Linked DNA regions of Homo sapiens. The protein of the gene in region 3 purifies or fractionates together with the protein of the main gene of each other region. This does not show direct contact. Each region holds a gene or a part of one and is shown on either strand. Other genes may lie near its edges. The genes, in order: ACSL4, PDE6D and FBXO10.

Evidence for each region.
Region 1: the proteins of FBXO10 (region 3) and ACSL4 purify together in Homo sapiens (affinity purification with western blotting; 3 studies listed by BioGRID, with this or other methods). This does not show direct contact.
Region 2: the proteins of FBXO10 (region 3) and PDE6D purify together in Homo sapiens (affinity purification with mass spectrometry; 3 studies listed by BioGRID and IntAct, with this or other methods). This does not show direct contact.

Annotation. Positions count from the first base shown.
Region 1 is NC_000023.11:109,730,236-109,738,107, reverse strand, and holds the start of ACSL4 (long-chain-fatty-acid--CoA ligase 4), read left to right. Parts: upstream 1-4,850; 5' UTR 4,851-4,969; exon of another isoform or gene 4,970-5,597; intron 5,598-7,872. UniProt on the Homo sapiens protein: Catalyzes the conversion of long-chain fatty acids to their active form acyl-CoA for both synthesis of cellular lipids, and degradation via beta-oxidation. Preferentially activates arachidonate and eicosapentaenoate as substrates.
Region 2 is NC_000002.12:231,736,263-231,743,367, reverse strand, and holds part of PDE6D (retinal rod rhodopsin-sensitive cGMP 3',5'-cyclic phosphodiesterase subunit delta), read left to right. Parts: intron 1-2,261; exon of another isoform or gene 2,262-2,411; coding exon of another isoform or gene 2,412-2,489; intron 2,490-4,165; coding exon of another isoform or gene 4,166-4,179; coding exon 4,180-4,268; intron 4,269-5,229; coding exon 5,230-5,355; intron 5,356-6,075; coding exon 6,076-6,181; intron 6,182-7,105. UniProt on the Homo sapiens protein: Promotes the release of prenylated target proteins from cellular membranes. Modulates the activity of prenylated or palmitoylated Ras family members by regulating their subcellular location.
Region 3 is NC_000009.12:37,517,333-37,524,437, reverse strand, and holds part of FBXO10 (F-box only protein 10), read left to right. Parts: intron 1-1,460; coding exon 1,461-1,613; intron 1,614-1,949; coding exon of another isoform or gene 1,950-1,981; exon of another isoform or gene 1,982-2,092; intron 2,093-2,599; coding exon 2,600-2,869; intron 2,870-5,999; coding exon 6,000-6,313; intron 6,314-7,105. UniProt on the Homo sapiens protein: Substrate-recognition component of the SCF (SKP1-CUL1-F-box protein)-type E3 ubiquitin ligase complex. Mediates the ubiquitination and degradation of BCL2, an antiapoptotic protein, thereby playing a role in apoptosis by controlling the stability of BCL2.

The DNA.
Region 1 (7,872 bases), on a different chromosome or scaffold from region 3:
CATTTTAAAATTTAAAAGATACTGCCAAATTGTCTTTTAAAAAGGCCAGACTGGGTGCAGTGGTTCACGCCTGTAATCTCAGCACTTTGGGAGGCCGAGGCAGGTGGATCACCTGAGTTCTGAGTTCAAGACCAGCCTGCCCAACGTGGTGAAACCCCATCTCTACTAAAAATACAAAAGTTAGCTGGGCATGGGGGCGGGCACCTGTAATCCCAGCTACTCAGGAGGCTGAGGCATGAGAATCTCTTGAACCCGGGAGGCAGAGGTTGCAGTGAGCTGAGGTCGTGCCACTGCACTCCAGCCTGGGCAACAGTGCAAGACTCTGTCTCAAAAATAAACAAATAAAATAAAATAAAGGGGCCAAACCAATTTACGCTCCTACTTAGAATATATGAGTGCAAGTTTCTTCATATTCTTGCCAAAATTGAATATTATCAATCTAAAGATCTTACCAACTTGAAAAGAAAAATTAAAAATATTTAATAATCTTTTATATCTATTTCTAAAAGTAATAATTATTCATTCAAACATATTGTTAAAAATGTTTTATTTGAATAACAGTAATTTGGCTTGTATCAGGTGCCATGTAGGGTCCAAGTGAAGCAGACAGTTTTATTACAGAATTTTGGTTTGAAGAGGGATGCTTTGAATAAATATCCAAAGGTTTAATCAGTCCAATAGTCCCAGTGGGGACTATTCACTCAGTTTCAGAGTGAAATAGTCCCATAATTATTTAAGCATAATTATGGGGTTTGTCTATTTCATAGACGGCATTAGCAACAGGAATATTTGTAGGATTGATGGGAATGGAGATTAACTTGGAGGTCAGATAGTGACTTAGTGAATGAAGTGGCTGTAGACCACTTCTCAAGGAATTTGTCCTTAGTTGTAAAGAAAGTTACTGAATAGGAGAATCTGGAGAAAGATTGTTCTGGTTCTAGCTTCCTTTTTCTCATCTGTGAAATGAAGAGGTTGAACTTGGTGATTAATAGCCATCATTTTATACACACTTGCCATAAATCAGGAATTTTATAGGCATGATTTCATTTAATCCTCCCTCAGAAGAGTCTTATGAATGAGGTACCATTATTATCCCCAATTTACAGAAGAGGCTGAGGCTCAGGAAAATGTTATATAACTTGGTCTAGGGTGGTTGGCTTAAGTCCAAACCCATATGGTTTCCATCGTGCTACTCTGCATCTAAGTGGCTTCCCAGCACTAATAGTCGAAGATTTTGAGTAAGGGACATTTTAAAATTTTGTTATTTTACTGGTCTTTTAAGAATAGGACATATTGGAAGCTTTTTGTATGTTAAAGGGAAAGCATAATAAAAAGAGATTTAAGGCAAGTTATGAAATTGATGACCTATCTTTTTTTGTAATATTACTAGGCTAGAATCACTACAGAGAGTGGGCAAAAATATACCAAAGGCAACTTTCTTACAGATTCAATGACAACCACAATAGATTTTTCACATACTCATGGCCTTATGGATAATAAAAATATTTTGTTATTTTTGATTCTTTATGGGAAGGTCACACAAACAATTTCAAGGATAACTGTGGAGGATTTTATTTAGAGGGTGTTGTAGTTATCTTTAAAAAGGACAAATGAGTTTCATGAGAGAAACCGAAATTAAGTTCCATTAAAATCCTGCTGTGATTTTGATGTGGACCACACTGTCTTGACGGATTAATTTGGAAAAACTTGACTCCATGCAATACTGTGTCTTCCTATCTGGGTGCACTAGATGTCTATTTGTTTTGGTGTTTCCATTAATTTAAAAACCTGAAAAATGTGCCAGAATGAAAAGAAATAGTTATTTTGAAAAAACAAATCATTTCTCAAAAATAACATTTAGATGTAGCTACTATGCCTTTGATCATTTTTGAAAGGAGTGGCTTAGGTTATTATTTATGTTCACAGTGAGATGATCATCTACGTAGGTTTCTGATTTCACCGGTTGTTTAACACAAGCCACTAAAGACAATATTTGGCCTGGTTGTTGGGTCTGCAAAAAATAAGGTTTGTTAATGACAAAATCTAACACAACTTGTCAATGCAAATATTATTATGAAGCCCTGCTGCTTGTATTTAGACCACAGGAGAAAATTATTATTATTCTACAAACCCGTGAAGTTTAACACGCAAAGGCTTGTTACACAGTCAATGAAGAACAGTTGTTTTCTGCCCTTCCATAAATAACTAATGCCAAGAGCAGCCTGGCTATCTGTTTCAGCTTCTTGTTACAGAATAATAAAATAGGCAAGGCCTAAATATCAGTGCCTGTTAACAGAGCTGTCCTTTAAATTCTGTTTAGCTTCTAACAGACTAATTCTCATGCTTTTAGTACTTATTACATTGCATTTTGAATCTGTCAATTGCATTGTACATTTTCCTAACTCTTCCATTTCCATACGTTTATCTACTCCATTTCTAATTGGGTTGGTAGTTCTGGGTAGGACTCATTACAGAGGCAGCTTAATGTAGCGGCAAGCACCCTGGTCTAGGAGTCATAAGCAGTGTAGTAGGAAATTCAGGCTCTGTTACTACTTAGTTGTGTGACTGGACAAGACACTTAACCTGCATCTATTTCTTCATCTGTGAAATAGGGATAATAATACCCTATCTTCCTAACTAATAAACAACGTTGCAAATGTTCTCTTTAAAATGTCAGACAGCTGCTTGGGAAATATTTTGCTCCTGGGCAGTAATTTCTGGAAGGTTTCTGATGACAAGAAATTAAGCAAGGTTTGTTTTGACTCCGAAAAAGGAAAGCTGGAAATAGCGTGGTTATACTTGGTTTCCTTTTTGGAGGTATAGTTCTTCTTTCCTCTTCAACTTGGGTGCAGTTAAATGTGGAAGAAGGTGAGATGTGGTAGGTGATGAAGACAGCCAGAACTGTACACACTAATGAATAGCTTAAGTAATAAGAGATCTTGAAAATCCAAGTAGTTTCTTGGTCTGATAAACATATCTATATGTATATCATACACACATTTGTATACCAAAAAACGGATAGTTTCAGGCTATAGTGATTTCTTTCCTTTATATCTTGTAGAGCTGGAGGAACTTCAGTAAGCTGAAGACTCTGTTCAGAGGAAATTACCTAATTGAAAATGTCTGGGCTAAGAGACCGACAATAAAGGAAACTGGCAAAAGTACTCTTTAATTACAAGTTCTTTTTCATCTTCATCCAGCACACTGATTTATGTGCTACACTGGGTTTGTATTATATCTATATTTTAATTCCACAACTAGACACTAACTTTATTGAGAACAGCGATATTCATTTCTTCAATTTCATTTGTGTTAACCCAACTGTAGGTGATAGTGCTCTGTACATCATAGTTACCCAGTGAATTACGTACCTGACATATGATTGCTTATTTCTGGTATTAAAACAAGATTTCATAAAATAAACATGACAATTAAACTCGTTGTTTGAAGTACTGAACTTTGTAGGTCAATCTTGAAAAAGGAAGCTACATGACTGTCTTAGCAATATTTATAGGTATATTATATGTAAGTGGGTGGGTTTCTTGGAAATTGAATTGGTAATATGGCTTTAGAGTAGTAACACAAAAACTATAGCTCTGTGCTCTCAGCTAACCACTTTTAGTGTCACCTGGGCTGCTTATTAAAAATTCAAATTTCTTATCCCTACCCAGATCAGAATCAAAATACCTGGGGGTTGTAGCTCCAGGTACCTACATTTCAACAAGCACCCCAGATAATTGTGATGCACACTGAAGAACTACTCTAGCTTGTAATCTCAGGTGGTAAGGCATTTTATATATACATATATATATACACACACACAAGCACAAATGGTAATTCTATGGGAAAATGGAAATCAGCAAGTGAAGTGAAATGTCAATTACCATCAGGAACAGGAAGCTAGTTCACCATTACGCATCAGGGAACTGGAAGAATTCTTGAGATTTATTTTTTTGGGTGATATATTCTTGGCAGTTTATCAGGCCTCATTTGCAATTATGGTCTGTCCCTTTTGAAGCCCTCAGATAGTTCGCTGGCATTTTAATTTTAATAGCAATTTCTTGCATCTGTTGGAACAGCATTCGTATGACCGGCTTATAAGCAATGATCAGGGCTAGTAAGATGTCACAAAGCTGCGGTGACTTTTCCTTATCAGTTGGGGGTTTTTTTGCCATGATACCATCGTGGAAATGAAAGACAACGTGAAAATCCTGCGTCCTTGTGATATTTCATCAGTGGGAGTGAGCGGGGATCTTAACGCAGTAAGAGGCAAGATAAACGGATGAGAGGCATTAGTTCAGGCTTACAGGAGCAAGATGCTTTTAGTCAAAGTGTTCAAGATAGCTCTCTTAAAGAGGAGCAGTGAAACCCAAAAATGAGTGTCTTTTGAGGGCAGCTGGAAGATGACCCGAGGGGAACTTTTATCCTGGGGTGGAGTCCTGCGAAGCAAGCCGCAGGTGAGGGCGTGGGCCAATTCTGCGCCTCACTGCTGTTAGGCGCAAGGACATCCCGAAACACACTCAACGACACCAGCAGCGAGACTGACAGAAGCGGATCGCCAGCGGGAGCAACAACTTGAGGCGAGCCGTTAGCCGCCTCGCCTTCCTCGCAGCGCCCCTCCCGCGCCCCGGGAAGCCCGTTCGGCTCCGCCTTTTCGACTGACGTCCCGGGCGAGCGGGGGCGGGCGCGTGGGTGGGCCGAGCCGTCTGCAGCCAGCGATTCGGCTGGCTCTGCCACACCACCGCGCGCCCCCGCTCCGCCCGCCCCTCCGGGCGCGTCTTTTCCGGGCTCGCGCTGAGTCCCGCCTCCGCCGGCTGTCCGGGTGCGCGCGCGCCGCTGCGGCTTTTTCTCTGGCCTCCGCCGCGCGCTCCTCCTCGTCCCAGCGCTAGCGGGCACGCGGTTCCTTTTTGCGAGCTTTCCGAGTGCCAGGCGCCGGCCGGCTGCGAAGACGCGGTGGGCCGCCCCTCCGGTGAGTATCCCTGGATGGGGAGGTTGCGGCCCCGGCACCCCTGCCCTGTCGGTACCAGGGCCCCATTTCCAGAGGGGGACTGGCGTACCTCACCTGAGCCGGGAGGAGGTTGGGTGGGCATTCCAGCTCCTGGAGTCGGCTCGCTTTTTTCCTTGAGCCAGGGCTATCTATCCGCTCGCCTCCGCTGGGGCCGGGAAGATTCCCGAGGTCACTGTATCTGCTCCTGTGATGGACTCTGGGGTCCTCGGAACCCCAGCCTGCCTCTTCCTGCCGCTCACCGCATCCCGAGGGCCAGAAGTCATCTTCCTGATCGGGGTACTAGGCTTTGCCACGGCCCTTTCCGGAGGAGACCATGAAGTGCTTGCTAGACCTCCAAACGACCTTTAGGGTGCCCCTAAACCTCAACTCCATTTTGTCCCCTCCCAGTCGCTCTGTAACTGAGGGCTAGGGAGCCTCTCTAGCCCTAGAGGCATCCGCCCTCTCGAATTTGAGGGATGCCGTCGCTTCCGATATCTTCCTTGCTTCCGATATCTTCCTAGCTTCCGTAGGCTTAGGTTTGTTAGAAAACAGCTGGATCCTGGCGAAGCGTGCTTTCCTTCCTTCCCCCACCCCCGTTCTTTCTGTCTACATCCCTGCCTTCAGTGGGTGCTATATATTTAGTATGAGCTTTATTCACTTCCTCTTCCTCTCGTTTGAGTGCCTGAAAGAACTGTGGCTGATGTCTATAGACATAGAAAAATCTAGGAGAATATGATTCATTGTCTAACCCCATCAAGGGGTTACATATTTTAAATAAGACGTCATTTCTCCTCTTCACTCCAGCATCTCCTCCTTCAAAGGCATTTTTCACCCTCTTGAAATTAATACGCTCTATTCGCTCTTTTCACCTAAAAAAAGGTCAATCGTCGCTCTGAGAAACAACAGTGAGATGCAAAATAAGGGTAAAATGGCATTGAAATGAATCCCTTTGAAAAAGTAAGCGGTTTGCTTTATCAGTTAATGGTCTCATCAGCGCTTCAGTTTCCTCTTCTGCAAAAATCAGTCTGTTGAACTAGAGCATATCAAAGGTTCCTTCTAGTGTTTTGATTCTAGGACCTCTAAATTCATGCAGGCTGCATAATGCAAATTTAACCTGATTAAAGCCTTATTTCTCATAGTCGCTTGTCACCTTAGTTTTTCTTTTATTTTGTCTCTAACAAGAAAGACTTTTAAATGTTCTTGATACGTAAGGCAGCAGGTGGAGATTCAATGATGGTACTGCCATTGAGCATATCGGTCAAGATTTTAACAGTGTAAGGCCTCTTCCTTAAATTGTAAAATAGCTCATCTTTTGATTGAAACTGCTAAAGTGTAAGACATGTAAGACTCCTGTTAGAATTAACACTCTCTGCCATTTAGGTGGGGGATGAAACATTAAACTGTTAGTATACTTGTACCTTAGAATAAAGTACCTTATTGTCCTGCTATAAGAAATAATTTGACAACTAAAAATCCATGGAAGGTGTAATACAGCAATTGAAAGCTTGAGTAAATTCAATTTTGTGGGTTTTTTTTTTTTTTTGGAAAACCCCCTATTTAAAAACACAAGTGATTTAGATTAAGATATTTCTTTCAGTATTTTTGGTAGGGGTGAGATGGGTGAAGAAAGAAGAGTCTTGTTCAATTCAGACAAGAGAAATGAATTGGAACTCTGGAGAGGCTCAGGTTCTAGACCCAACTCTAGATATATATTTAACCTTGAACAAGTCACTTCACCTCTCTTAGTTTTTGCATCTGTAAAATAAGTGTCTTTATGGTTGTTGAAATGATCCACAAGTCCCCCAATTTGAATGATATATTCTTATAATGAATATATATGACAAATATATATATACACACGTGTATATATAGGTATACACACACACATATAATGCAATTTGCGTTAAGGCTGTTATAAATCCTGTTATACCAGTTGACTAGAATGTTTTTCTCAAAGGTTTGTGTATAGTGGTTTCAATTTAGGTATACTTAGTTCTTAATCCTGATTAAATAAATAATTATATGTGAAAATCTATAAACTCAGAAGCATTTTACAAATGTTGGGTATTATGTTAATTTCTGCTTGCAAGTGAAATGTGTGTTATACCGCACTATTTTTTAAATGTCCATGGCTTTTAGAAATTTATAAGGGAATGGCTGGGTGTGGTGGCTCACGCCTGTAATCCTAGCACTTTGGGAGGCCGAGGCCGGCGGATCATGAGGTCAGGAGATCGAGACCATCCTGGCTAATACGGTGGAACCCCGTCTCTACTAAAAATACAAAAAATTAGCCAGGCGTGGTGGTGGGTGACTGTAGTCCCAGCTACTTGGGAGGCTGAGGCAGAAGAATGGCGTGAACCCGGAAGGTGGAGCTTGCAGTGAGCCGAGATCGCGCCACCGCACTCACATACTGCCTTACAACTGTAATTGGCTAGGAACTTTAAAATAATATGTGGGCATCTCATTCATTTATTAATTCATTCAACTATCTTCTTCCTTCATCTGTCACGTATGTCAGGCCCTCAGGACATGATGGTTAAGACAAACCCTACTCTATGAGTTTATACTTTGGGCTGATGGAGATGGTTGGGGGGCATGTGGAGAGACAGATGTACATCCAGTTTATTTTTGTTAAAAACAACAACAGTCAAATCAAGGACAAACAAAATTCTGGAGAAGTTAAGTTTCCATAGGGGAGGAAGAGATGATTCTATTAATTGTAGCCTGTAGACTCTTTGACATTACCTTTTTCTCCATCCTTTCAATTGCTGAGCCTTTAGCAAAAATAAAAGCTTTGTTTTTCCACTTCTACCATTGGCTGGTCTTATATACTCTTTCTTTCCCTTTTAACTTTTTATTTTGAGATAGTTGTAGATTCACATATA
Region 2 (7,105 bases), on a different chromosome or scaffold from region 3:
ACTGCAACCTCCGCCTCCTCTGTTCAAGCGATTCTCCTGCCTCAGCCTCCTGATTAGCTGGGACTACAGGCGCACACCACCACGCCCAGCTAATTCTTGTATTTTTAGTAGAAACGGGGTTTCACCATGTTGGCCAAGATGGTCTTGATCTCTTGACCTCGTGATCCGCCCGCCTCGGCCTCCAAAAGTGCTGCAATTACAGGCGTGAGCCACGACGCCCAGCCGAGACTTTTCTCGTATAGCAGCAAAACCTAGACAGAATCTCTCCAGAGGGTAAAATATAGTGTTATTACACACATGATGATTCCAGTCAGCTGTGTTGTTTAGGGTTCTTCACTGCAAGCTATTCAAACAATGGGAAAGGGTATCTGAGGCTTTTGGAGCTGCCTGGAAGTTGAAGGACAGGGTCTGTAGCAAAGACCACACAGTAGGAAAGGGCAGGTTGGCATGCCCCTGCTGCCCCCACCCTGAAGAACTTCCAACTCCCTCGAAAGTCCTGTAGCTTCAGGACCCCAGAACTGGGTAGCACGTGTCCAAGGCTAGGCCTTCTTGTGCTCACCCCTGATTATGCCAGGGCTGGGAGAAAAGGATCTGGCCTTTCTAGCTGCTGTAGTGCAAAGCAGTCACTGCCTTCCACAAGGTAGAGACTCTCTTCTTTGGGAAGAGAGTCTGATCACAAGATAGCAAAAAAAGAAAACCAAAAAAAAGACACATGTAAACTATATCTATATTATACATATATTTATCTGCAGCTCAGTCTCTTCGCAAATATTAACGATCTTTTGCAGACAGCCTCTGTGCTTGCATAATGTTAATTTTCTTTTCCTTTAATGGTTTGTCAATTGTTTTTTAAAACAAAACAAAAAAAACCTTAGCACTCTCTTCTTAAAGTTAGTCTTTATTTTTATTAAGTTGTATGTGTTCATCATTTAAAGAATCATAGTCAGCCGGGCAAGGTGGCTCACACCTGTAATCGCAGCACTTTGGGAGGCCAAGGCAAGCGGATCACCTGAGGTCGGGAGTTTGAGACCAGCCTGAACAACATGGAGAAACCCCATCTCCAGTTAAAAATACAAAAATTAGCCGGGCATGGTGGTGCATGCCTGTAATCCCAGCTACTCAGGAGGCTGAGGCAGGAGAATTGCTTGAACCCAGGAGGTGGAGATTGCAGTGAGCCAAGATCATGCCATTGCACTCCAGCCTGGGCAACAAGAGCGAAACCATCTCAAAAAAAAAACAAAAAACACAGTCTATCTAGTTTCTAATGAAGAGCACCACTCCCTGTCCCCCTATTTTCTACTCCCCAGAGAAAACTATTTTCAATCCTTTTTAGCTTATTTATTTGGTATTCATCTTGGTATTTCTAAAAAGCAAAATGTGGCTATGTCGTAATGTTTCCATTTTAGCATTATTTATCCACTTTCCACTACGGAAAATGACAGTTTTGTTGTTTCTCAACATTTCGTGCCTGACTATCCAGATATACATACTCTTGTTCCCCCATCCTCCCAGGTAAATTATATTGGGTGTTAGCATGTGCTTTCATTGTTATGACCATATCAGCACTACTTGCAATGAAGCCATGAGTTATACTATGACTACTTTTTTCTTCCAGTACTACCTTTAATTTTTCTTGATGTCAGTACTTGGATTTTTGTCATTTGCTTAGATTTTCTGTGCTTCTCATGAATTTGACCCCAAAATCTCCCTCTAATTGTATAAATCTCCTTTCCATATAAACACACTAGGTATTCTATGAATTTTATCTTTTTAAAAGAAAATCTCTTCCTGAGCTTTGTGACCTGCTCTAGCCTGGACCCTGGACTAGTCACTCTCCAGACCTGTTAAAGAGCTATTGTCTTGGGATCTTCCTTCACTGTCACTCAGGGGACTCCCTTCAGCTGTTTCTTGCTTGCTATATCCCATGTCATCCCCTTTCTTGGTTTTCTCTGTCATTTTGATGAAGCCATATTTTCCTTAGTTTCTTAAGAAAGCAAATATTTTTTAGTTTGTTTCAGGAATTGTTTCCCTGAAAATTTTAAAGGCCCTGCTAAGTTGTCTCCTACCCTCCAGGGTTCCTTTTGAATTTGATTTATTCTGATTTTTTTTCCTATTCTGATTTGACCCTTTGTATAATGACTTGTTTAACCTCTGGAAGCTTTTCGCTTTTCTTTATCTTTGATATTCTGTAAATGCACTAATGATGTGACTTGGGCATTTGCTACACCCTTTTTTTTTTTTTTTTTTTTTTTTTGAGACAGGGTTTCGCTCTTGTTGAGGCTGGAGTGCAATGGCGCAATCTCCCGGGTTCAAGTGATTCTCCTGCCTCAGCCTCCTGAGTAGCTGGGATTACAGGCAGGCACCACCACGTCTGGCTAATTTTGTGTTTTCGGTAGAGATGGGGTTTCTCCATGTTGGTCAGGCTGGTCTCGAACTCCCGACTTCAGGTGATCCGCCCGCCTCAGCCTCCCAAAGTGCTGGGATTACAGGTGAGCCATCGCTCCTGGCCTAGACACTTTCCATCTACGAAATTTTCTTGAATTAATTTATTGATGCCATCCTCCCCTCTGTTCTCTCTGTTCTACCTTTCTAGAACTTCTATTAGTTAGACACTAGAACTCTTGGACTATTCTTGGACTATAAGTTTTTGTGCCTTTACTCTCCTTTTTTTTTTTTTTTTTTTTTTTGAGACAGGGTCTCCCTCTGTCGCCCAGGCTGGAGTGCAGTCGCATGATCTCGGCTCACTGCAGCATTGATTTTGTGGACTCAGGCAATCCTCTCACCTCAGCCTCCAGAGTAGCTGGGACCACAGGCATGCACCACCATGACTTGTTAATTTTGTATTTTTGTAGAGATGGGGTTTCACCATGTTTCCCAGGCTAATCTCAAACTCCTGAGCTCAAGGAATCCACCCACCTCAGCCTCCCAAAGTGCTGGAATTACAGGTGTGAGCCACCACACTCAGCCTGCTCTCCTGTTTTCTATCCTTGCCTTTTTCGTTCTGAAAGCTTTCTTCAATTTTGTCTTTGTGTTGAGTTGTTTGGTTCTGCTATCAAAATATATGTGTTTCTAGAGTTCTTTTTTGTTCTCTGAATATTCTTTTTTAAATTGGTATTATTGACTCATTTAATGTATGAAACAATACAGAAACTAGAAAATATAAATACTTATGTTAGAAGGCATTTTCTGACAGAGAACATCAGTTAACCAGCTTCATAAGTTGTAACCTCAAACCAGAGAAATTCACCTAAAATATACAGAATTTTATTATATTAATTTTTAGTGTCTGTAAAGGTTATGTCTTATCTCTCTTTTTTAATGCTCCTTTTTAAAACTTATGTCTTTATCTGTAAGCCTCTTTATTCTTCTAAGTTACTTTTTTCTTTTAGTTTGTTTTGGTCTGTCTTTCATAATAAATGCTTTCTTAAATTTCTGTTGATACTTGGCTATCTTCTCATATTTAAAAACAGGGCACTCAGAGGCTGAGGCAGACAGATCACTTGAGGTCAGGAGTTCGAGACCAGCCTGGCCAACATGGTGAAACCCCATCTCTATTAAAAATACAAAAATAAGCTGGGCTTGGTGACGTGCTCCTATAATTCCAGCTACTCAGGAGGCTGAGGCACAAGAATTGCTTGAACCAAGGAGATGAAGGTTGTAGTGAGCCGAGATTGTGCCACTGCATTCCAGCCTGTGTGACAGAGTGAGACTCTGTTTCAAAAAAAAAAAACAGAGGGGGCCACTACAAAGCAATTTGAGAGTTCTGTGCTTGTGGGTGAAGTTTATGGACTGTGGCATTCACTATAGAGTGATCTTCATGAGTTGTTTCCTTGGGGTACATCTGATATTTGTTTCTTTAGGTATTTTATCTTGGTTGGTCAGATCCTGTTGGTAAATTTTAAATTTTGCACTATTCGTTTTCTGTCCCTTTCTTGCAGTCTCTAGGTGTGTGCAGTCTTAGGATTCTCATAGATAAAAGTAACTTCTCTAGGTTTCTGCTTCTTCCTTTAGATGTCTTTTTGACTCTCCTCACATTCTTATGTGCTTCCATGGCAATGAGCAGTTTGACAAACTTTTTAAAAAGTAAACAAGAGTTGGTGGGAGTAAACATGAGACACCTAGAATACAAAGTGGGAGTCACTTTCAGTGCCTTATTTTTCCTTAGTCATATTTGATCAGAAATTGGATGAACCTTCGGGATGCTGAGACAGGGAAGATACTCTGGCAAGGAACAGAAGACCTGTCTGTCCCTGGTGTGGAGCATGAAGGTACTTTCCAACCCTTTATCTACACAGGGCTGTGACCAATGCCAGACTAGCACCTGAGCATAAGAGAGCTAAGTTAACACATACCTAATAGGCGGGTGAGCCCCTGAAGACACAGCATGTTAATCCATGTGTTGTTGACAGTTTCAGTTACTTTCTTTTTTTTTTTTTTTTTTTTTTTTTGAGACACAGTCTTGCTCTATCACCCAGGCTGGATGGAATGCAGTGGTGTGATCTTGGCTCACTGCAACCTCTGCTTCCCAGGTTCCAGCGATTTTCATGCCTCAGCCTCCCGAGTAGCTGGGACTACAGGCGTGCGCCACCACATCTGGCTAATTTTTGTATTTTGAGTAGAGATGGGGTTTCACCATGTTGGCCATCCTGGTCTCGAACTCCGGACATCAAGTGATCTGCCCGCCTCAGCCTCCCAAAGTGCTGGGATTACAGGTGTGAGCCACCACGCCCAGCCAGTTACTTTCTTAACAGTTCTTTCTCTCACTTCCCAAAACCCATTTTGTGCTGATATTTTACCATTAGAACATACCCAAAGATAGAAACTAAGATCTCAACTTTTTCTCCAAAAGAAAATTTGCATTTTTATCTCCCTGAAGTAAAGAAGAAGGAAGGGGTTAAAATCACCAGAACAGAGTAGAGAGAAGGTACCCATGCAGCCCCCTTCCTGATGAGAGTAGTTAGATGAGGCCCTTAGATGCACAAAACCTGGTGTTCCTTGAAGATCTAATATCTTTCAGATACGGGTGACCAATTAGAGACCTCTGCTTTCAGCCACACAAAGTGTAATGCACTTACCAAGGCATTATCCAAAATGTAAGAAAGTGTTCTCTAAATCAGCTGTAAGAAAGTGTTCTCTAAATCAGCTGTAAGAAGCTCCCAGAAATTTGAAGCATCATAGTCCTGTGGTTTTCATTTAGAAAGGCTTCAACATTTGTTTTTCTCTTACCAGCCCGTGTTCCCAAGAAAATCCTCAAGTGCAAGGCAGTGTCTCGAGAACTTAATTTTTCTTCGACAGAACAAATGGAAAAATTCCGCCTGGAACAAAAAGTTTACTTCAAAGGGCAATGCCTAGAAGGTATTCTGCTGCCTACATGCCTGAAATCAGGGCTTAGGGCGACCAGGACAAAAGGCAACAATACCCAGTGAACTAAAGCAGTGCTTTGATAACATTCCTTTTACAACTCAGTTTGTGGTAGGATTCCTACACTCTGCAAGACTGTGAATCCCCAGTGAAACAAACCAAAACAAAGCTAGCCACTACAAGGGGCTTTGAGGTCTCTGACACTGGGAGCGTGGATGGTGGTGCCTGGTTTAGGCACTGACGTTGTATTGTGATATGATCATGGAGGAAGCTGCTATGAGCAGGGCCTAGTACAGTGCTCTACATACAGTATCATACAGATTTGACTGGCAAGGCCACTCTGCATTGAATTCTCACCATGCAGTGTAAAGGGCACATAAGCCCCTTCAAGCTAATTCCAAGTGAATTTAACTATGTATCTATATATAGTTCACATCTAGCCTACCTCTAAGAAAATGCTGCTTATATTGTGTCCTGCTCGCTGGTCCTAGTCCTTTAGACCTCAAAGCATGAGAAGCAAGCCTTTGGTGTGGTTCAGAGGACAACCTGAGCAGGCTTCCCTGTCTTTTTTACGCCCCTGGTCTGAGAGGTTGCTGATAGCTTCCTTTGGTGGTTCTCAGGGTAGGAAGAGGCTCACTCTAGAGAGGGAGACAAAGAGCCCTTAAACTTTATACTGGGGCACCTGCTCACCCCGGCTTTTCCTTCTTCCTTCAGAATGGTTCTTCGAGTTTGGCTTTGTGATCCCTAACTCCACAAATACCTGGCAGTCCTTGATAGAGGCAGCACCCGAGTCCCAGATGATGCCAGCAAGCGTCTTAACGTGAGTGAGCAGGTCTCAGGAAATTATGAAGTGTGTCTAGAAACAGGCATTCCAGGCAGGTGGGACTCCTGGTGCCATTCAGTGGGCAGAGAGCTCGGTTGAGAAATAGAGTAAAAGAGTATCCAAGGGTATCTAGGTTTCCAGGTTCCTGACCTTTTTCATATGAAAAAGACAGTATGATAGAGTAGAAAGAATAAAAAACTAAAAATAAAAATAAAACTTTAGATTAAACCAGATTTAAATTCCTGATTCACCCTGACTACCTGTGTCATCTTGGGCACTAATATACTTTATCTCTCTGAGCCTTAGTCTTTCATCTCTAAACACAGAAATTAATTCTGTCTTACAGAGGTGTAATGAAGATAAAATGTGATGACATGGAAGGAGACTGGCATTTAATATATATACCGAATCTATGTTAATTTGCTCCCATTCCTGACTACCGTACTTCCGGTATCTCTGTATTTTGTTTAGATCACCTTTAACAGAATCTGGCAAAGTCCTATTAATAATTCTGTTTTCGAGGATACTACTTGGTTACAGTTTTTTGGAGAATGGCTTACCATATTAATAGCTTTGGTTCCTGTTCCAAGAACAATTTGTTTGTGCTTTTTCCAAAAACACTGTCAATAACTTCCTACCTCCCATTGTCTGTGGGAAAGATGTTAGTCTCTCAAATGTTATAGTAATAGTACCTTCTAAAGAGTTAGCTGGGCGTAATGGCACACACCTGTAATCCCAGCTACTCAAGAAGCTGAGATAGGAGAATTGCTTGAACCCAGGAGGTGGAGGTTACAATGAGCCAAGATCATGTCACTGCATTCCAGCCTGGGTAGCAGACCAAGACTCTATTTCAAAAAAAAAAGAGTTAGTCCCACAGATAATTGTGTAATATTGGATCATCTCTTTCAACAGTTCCTTTAT
Region 3 (7,105 bases):
CGTGTGGTATACAGGCCGTGTTCCAGGAGCTACAAGTGCAGCAGTGAACGAGGCTGTCAGCCACTGACATTTTAGGAGAGGAAGCGAATAAATAAATAAAAGCCTACGTATATGAGCAAAAAACATCCCATCTGAGGGTGACAAGTGCTCTATGGATAATTAAGGCAAAAGAGGGACTGGGTAGGCATTTGGGATTGTGTGGTCAGGGCAGCCCTCTGAGAAGGTGACAAGGAAACCAGACCCTGAGTGGGAGTGGCTGGAGGAGCTGGGAAAGAACCTTCCGTGTAGGGCCGCCTGTGAGAACAGACTTGGCATGGCCGAGTGGACATCGCTTGTGGGACTGGAGTGTGGTGCACAAGGGGCCTGCAGTGGGGACATGGAGACAGGAAGAGGCCAGTCACACAGAGACTCCTGAGCCATTGCAGGTGAGGCTAGCGCCTTCTCACAGGCTTGTGGGTAAATGGCCACATTCTGCCTCTGAGGACTCTAAAGCCAGTTTATTTATTTATTTTTTTTGAGACGGAATTTCACTCACTCTTGTTGCCCAGGCTGGAGTGCAATGGCGCGATCTCGGCTCACTGCAACCTCCGCCTCCCAGGTTCAAGTGATTCTTCTGCCTCAGCCTCCCGAGTAGCTGGGATTACAGGCATGTGCCACCACGCCCAATTTTGTATTTTTAGTAGAGACGGGGTTTCTCCATGTTGGTCAGGCTGGTCTCGAACTCCCGACCTCAGGTGATCCGCCCGTCTCAGCCTCCCAAAGTGCTGGGGTTACAGGCGTGAGCCACCGCACCCGGCCTATTCTTTGTTTTGTTTCCTTTTTGTTTGGTTGGTTGGTTTTTTGGACACCAGTGTCACTCACCAAAGCTAGTTTATTCTTTTTTTTGAGGCAGGGTCTCAGTCTGTCATCCAGGCCAGAGTGCAGTGGCTCGATTATAGCCCACTGCAGCCCTGACCTCCAGGGTTCAAGTGATCCTCCCACCCAGCCTCCCAAGAAGCTGGGACTACAGGCACGCACCACCACACCTGGCTAATTTTTTTTGTATTTTTTTTTAGAGACAGGATTTCCCCATTTTGCCCAGGATGGTCTGGAACTCCTGGGCTCAAGTGATCTACCCGCCTTGGCCTCCTAAAGTACTGGGATTACAGGCATGAGCCACCATGCCTGGCCAAAACTAGTTCATTTTTAATCATCAGTCCTCAAGGCCATTGGGTGTATAGTAGGTGCCGGGGAGATAGGAGTGCACAAGATAGACACAAGCCTTGCCCTTGGGGAAAGGAGTCAGCAGATAAGTCCCTGAAACATCAGACAGCAGACAAGATTTACAGTGCTAATTGCTGGCAGGGTAAGGCCAGGGCCTTCTGGTCTGGAGTAGCCTTGATCAAAACTGTCCAAGTCCTATTTGCCAGCACTGGAGCTGGCCCTTGGGTACTGACCTTCTTTTCTGCTTCTCTCCATAGAAAATGTCATCCGTGAGAATCAGTGGGGAGGTGTGGACATCCGCCGTGGAGGGATCCCCGTTCTCAGGAGTAACCTCATCTGCTTTGGCTATTCAGATGGTGTGGTTGTGGGAGACGAAGGCAAAGGCCTCATAGAAGGAAATACCATCTACGGTGAGGAGCTTGTTCCCAACCCAGCCGGGGAGGCAGGAAGCCCAGGTTCCATCTCCAGCTTGTGGGTCCTGAGAAGGTCACTGCCTTTCCCTGTGCCTCAAAGACCTCATCTGAACAGGCACTCTCAGGCCACAGTCACCCAGGCCCTCCCAGAACAAAGAGCCTCTTACAAATCACATTGTAGTCCAGATTGACCCCGTGGGGTTAGCAAAGCAGAAGGCTTTATCCCCTTTTAAAATAGCAAAAGACAGGAGTTGTGTCATGTCTTAAGGACAGGACCATTTCAGCCCTGGCTCATGTGCATCTAACTCCTCTTATCCTTTCTTTTGATCCCAGAGAACGGAAAATATAATGGGAAAACAAGATAATCACAGGAAGAAAACTCTTCTCACTCACGCAGTGACTTTGGGCAGAGCCTTCATCTGTCTGGACTCTATCTCTAATAATACAGTGATAATAATAAAGATGACTCAGGCCCACCTCTCTACTCAGCCCTTTCTATGCATGATCACATTTAATCCTCATGACTGCCTTCTGAAGGAGGCACGGTTATTAACCCCATTTAAAAGATGAGAAAACTGAGGGACAGAGAGAGGTCTGGTAACCTGCTCAGGGTCTCACAGCTGGGAAGTGGTAGGGCTGGGATTCCAACTGAGGCTGCCTCCTATGCAGGGAGGGATTGGTGCCCCCTTGGCACTGTCACTGTGGGCTCATGTGCTTCTGATGTGGACATGTGGCCTGACAGTCCTCAGAGCACTTTCACACTGTGTGGAACGAGCCGAGCTTGTGAGGTTCACCTGATCCTGATGACCTCTCTTGTGTGAAGGTGAAGTCTGCAGCTAGAGCCATCAGGTGGCTTGTCCGAGGTCATTAGCAAGGCAGGGACTCTCTCCCAGGCCAGTGGCTTTTGTTTCCCCTCTCAGGGAGACTCAGGTGCCGCTTCACCTGAGTTCAGTGTCGGTGACCAGCTCCTCTCACTGTCCCAGCTAACAAGGGCTGTGGTGTGTGGATGATGTCGTCCAGCCTCCCCCATGTCACCAGCAACCACGTCAGCTACAATGGCCTGTATGGAGTGGCAGTATTTAGCCAGAAGGATGGCTCCAGCGAGTTACCTCGAGGCCACAGGGCTCAAGAGAACTTCAGCGAGGATGGGGACGCCATCCTCTGGGAGACAGAGCTGGAGAAGGAGGACGACCCACTGCGCCGGCCCATCACCATAGCTCTTGTTGAGTCTAACAGTATTAATCACAATGGAGGTGAGTATACCCCCTCAGCCCCTGCTCAAGAACCTTCCATGGCTCCCCACTGTCTTTTTTTTTCTCCAATTTAAAACTTTTAATTTAATTTAAATTTAAAAGTAAACTTTAATGTCAAAGATGCAAACCTGGGTAGGGCAGAAAAATCACACACAAGGTTGCCACTTCACACTTGGAGGGTTGCACAGCGGCCAGGCAGAGGCGCTCCTCACTTCCCAGACAGTGTGGGGGCCAGGGAGAGGCGCTCCTCACTTCCCAGACAGCGTGGGGGCCAGGGAGAGGTGCTCCTCACTTCCCAGACGGTGGGGCGGCCGAGCAGAGGTGCTTCTTATTTTTGAGACGGTGCGGCCGCCAGGCAGGGCCTTCTGCAGACTGATCCCAACTTGCCCTCAGGCCTCATCAGCCACTTCTTCCAGCCTGATCCCCAATCCTCCTGTATTTATTCATTAAACTTGAATCCATTCTTTCCTGCCTCCTAACCTGCTGACCTCACTCATGCCTTTCTCCCATCCACACGTCCCAAACTAACTTGAACTTCAAAACCTGTTGTGAATATCCCCCTTCATTCCTTCCTCCTTTGAACTGGGCCCTCCCCATCCCCACTGGCACTTGTTATGAGGCCTCGCGACTGTATTTATTTCTGTGGCTGTTTCATCAACACTGATAGGCCATGAACTTGAGACAAAGAACTGAAGCCCACCCAGCTCAGTGCCCCTGTCCCTGCAGTACCAAATCCCACCTCTGGCACACATGCTTTTAATCAACTCTAGGATACATTTCTCAAAATTCAACATCTCCCACGAGATGCATATCATGGTTTAATTGGCAGTGAGTTTTCCTTCTTAGAGAGGCAGAAAATAAAAGTGTTTTAAATCCATGTTATCCTAAACCTGATGAAAAATGGAGGCCAGGTGCCAGGGATCAAGCCTGTAATCCCAGGACTTTGGGAGGCCAAGACTGGGGGATTGCTTGAGGCCAGGTGTTCAAGACCCGCCTGGGCAACATAACAAGACTTGGTTTCTACAAAAAAAAAAAAAAAAAAAAAAGAAGAAGAAGGAGTAGAGAAAGAAAAATTAGTTGGATCTGGTGGCATGTGCCTGTGGTCCCAGCTACTCAGGAGGCGGGGGGATCGCTTGAGCCCAGGAGTTCAAGGCTGCAGTGAGGTGTGATTGCACCACGGTATTCTAGGTGCTCAGAGCTCAGGAGTGACAGGAGCAAGACCCTGTCTTAAAAGGAAAAAAAAAAAAAAAAAAAAGATGGTAGAAGATGTTTGATATTTCTTGAATTAAAAAAAAATAATTACTGTGTAGTTCACCTAACTCCAGGGCTCCCAAAGCCTCCTGATTATCAAAATCACTGTGGGGTGGGGGTGGGAGGGTAGGATGGATGGGTGGGTCGGGAAATGGAGGAAGGCTTATTCAGAACAGATTCCTGGGCCAGGCGCAGTGGCTCACACCTGTAACCCTAACACTTTGAGAGGCCAAGGCAGGAGGATCGCTTGAGTTTAGGAGTTCAAGACCAGACTAGGCAACATAGAGAGACCTCAATCTCTACTGAGAAAAAAAAAATTTTTTTCAGATTAGCTGGGCATGGTGGTACATGCCTGTAGTTCCAACTACTAGGGAGGCTGAAGTAGGAGGATGCTTGAGCTCAGGACTCAGAGTTCGAGGTTGCAGTGAGCTATGATGGTGCCACTGCACTACTGCCTGGGCAATAGAGCAAGACCCTGTCTCTAAAACAAAATAAAATTAAAAGAGATTCCTGGGCCTGGTAAGCACTTGCTTCTGGTAGTGGTAGAGGACAGGGAGATGGATAACCAGCAGCCCCAACCCACTTATTCAGAAAATGAGTTCTGTCTCCTCCCAGGTCAGAGGTTCCTCCATGTGGCCATGCTGTCTGTCCGGTACGACAGGCAAAGCCACCTACGTTCACAAATACTTATTTTTGTTGTTCTCAACCAAGCCAGGAGAAGCAACAGGCTGGTGCCACCAAGAGATTTGAGCTTGCAGGCTCATGGCTCCAGACACTGCTGCAGGGCCCCAGTCATTGTCCTGCACACAACCTCCCCCAGCACTGCCCCAACCCTTGTTGCTGTTGGTGGGCAGAGGGACCTACCGCAGAGCCCTCCTCTCCTCGCCCCCGGGTCTGGCTGCCCTGCTTTCTTTTCCTGACAAGCCATGGAGCTCTAATCCTGCTGACTTGGGGTTTTTCTCCTCATGTACCTAGTGTCTCTAAGTACACACAACCGCAAGCGTCAGTTTTCCTTTCCCAAATTTCAAACACATTTTTGACACATATTACTCGCTTAGTAAGTTTTTGTACTCCAAAATTACAGAACTTACATTAAGAAGAAAATTTCCGGCCAGGCATGGTGGCTCACGCCTGTAATCCCAGCACTTTGGGAGGCCGAGGCAGGTGGATCACGAGGTCAGGAGATCGAGACCATCCTGGCTAACACGGTGAAACCATGTCTCTACTAAAAATACAAAAAATTAGCCGGGCGTGGTGGCGGGTGCCTGTAGTCCCAGCCACTCAGGAGGCTGAGGCAGAAGAATGGTGTGAACCCGGGAGGCGGAGCTTGTAGTGAGCCGAGATGGCGCCACCGCACTCCAACCTGGGCGACAGAGCGAGACTCCGTCTCAAAAAAAAAAAAAAGAAAATTTCCCCAAACAGTAGGGAGGCAGATTCCAGGTTAGTGTAGGAAGGAGAGCAAAGCAAAACCCTCTAATGAGTAGATCTGCCTGTCCAGAGGGGGAGTGAGCAGCCTTGAGGCGGCAGTGAGCACCCCGTCAGGGAGGTGTAAGCGGCAGTAGGATGGCGGTGGTGCAGGAGGCATTCAAGCACACGGTGGGAGCTCAGGCCAGAGGAGCCTTCTCACATGGTGTTTCCCTGGCTACACTGAATAAGGACTTCATGCAGAAGAACCAGAGTTTTGTTGACGCACCTGGATTTCCTCCTGCTGTTTCATCAGCTTGGAAGACGCAAACTCAAGGGTTGTTTCTGAGTGTTGGTACCTCTTCTTCTCCACTCCGTTCTCCCGGAGTGCACAATTCAGGGAAGGCTTTTCCTGACTGGTGGTGTCAGGGCTGACCCTGGGACCCCCTGTGCTTTCCAACCCTTCCACCCATAGCCTCAGGACTCTATGTCCAGAGCAGCGAGGCACTGCATGTCATCACCAATGTGATCCACGCGAATGGGGACAGAGGCATTACTGTGGCCCAGAGCAGCCAACCCACCCGAGTGGCCAACAACAGCATCTCCTGCAACCGGCAAAGTGGGGTCAAGGTTGAGGCCCAGTGCAAAGTGGAGCTCCGGGGCAATGGTATCTATGACAACAGAGGCCACGGCATTATCACCAAGGGCGACAGCACCATCGTCATTGAAAACGATATCATTGGCAACCGGGGCAGCGGGCTGCAGCTGCTGCCCAGGTCCGACACTAAAGTGAGTATGTCTGCATGTGTGTGACGTGTGGTGCCCACACAGGGCACAACCCTGGGATAGTCCTCGTGGCCTCTGCTGAGAACAGAACCGTAATCACTCAGCACTACAAGGGACAGTATCCCTCCTGCCAGGACTCAGCCTGGGAAATGTGGGTGGGACTTCCCACAGGGGGGGACGGAGAAGCTGAGTCCTGAAGGATGAACAAGGGCTCACCAGCAGGAAGCCAGGGATGGGGTGTCCCCTCCTTGTCATGGTGTTGGGAGCCTCCCGAGTTATCTTCATGGTCTCCGGGTCAAGGTCAGGACTATTTCAGCTCTCTTTCCTTAACAGAATAATCATGCACAGTGCCTGCTGTACAGTAGATGCTTCATGAAGAGAGAGATCCTGCCTTGGGGCCTTTGCATACACTCTTCCCTATATACCCTGCATACCTCCTGCCCGCCTTGCACTGCAGTCCTGCAGCTTAGCTGTATCTTTGTTCAGGAAGAGTCCCTGAGCTCCCACCTCCCACCCCAGGCTGTTTGAGTTATCTCTTGTCTAGTGCTTTTGTCCACACATACCTCACAGAGCACTCCCCACAGGGCTTGGTCCTCACAGAGCACTCCCCACAGGGCTTGGTATCTCTTCCTTCACCTATTTGTCTCCCCACCGGACTGAGCTCTGAGCACCTTTCTATGCAGAGCTCCGTTTCACTGTGGAGCCAAACAGATCTTGTTCCTGCCCTTATGGAATTACGATCCCAAGGGCTCTATTTTTATTTTTAGTTCAACAGTTTTTGGGGTACAGGTGGTT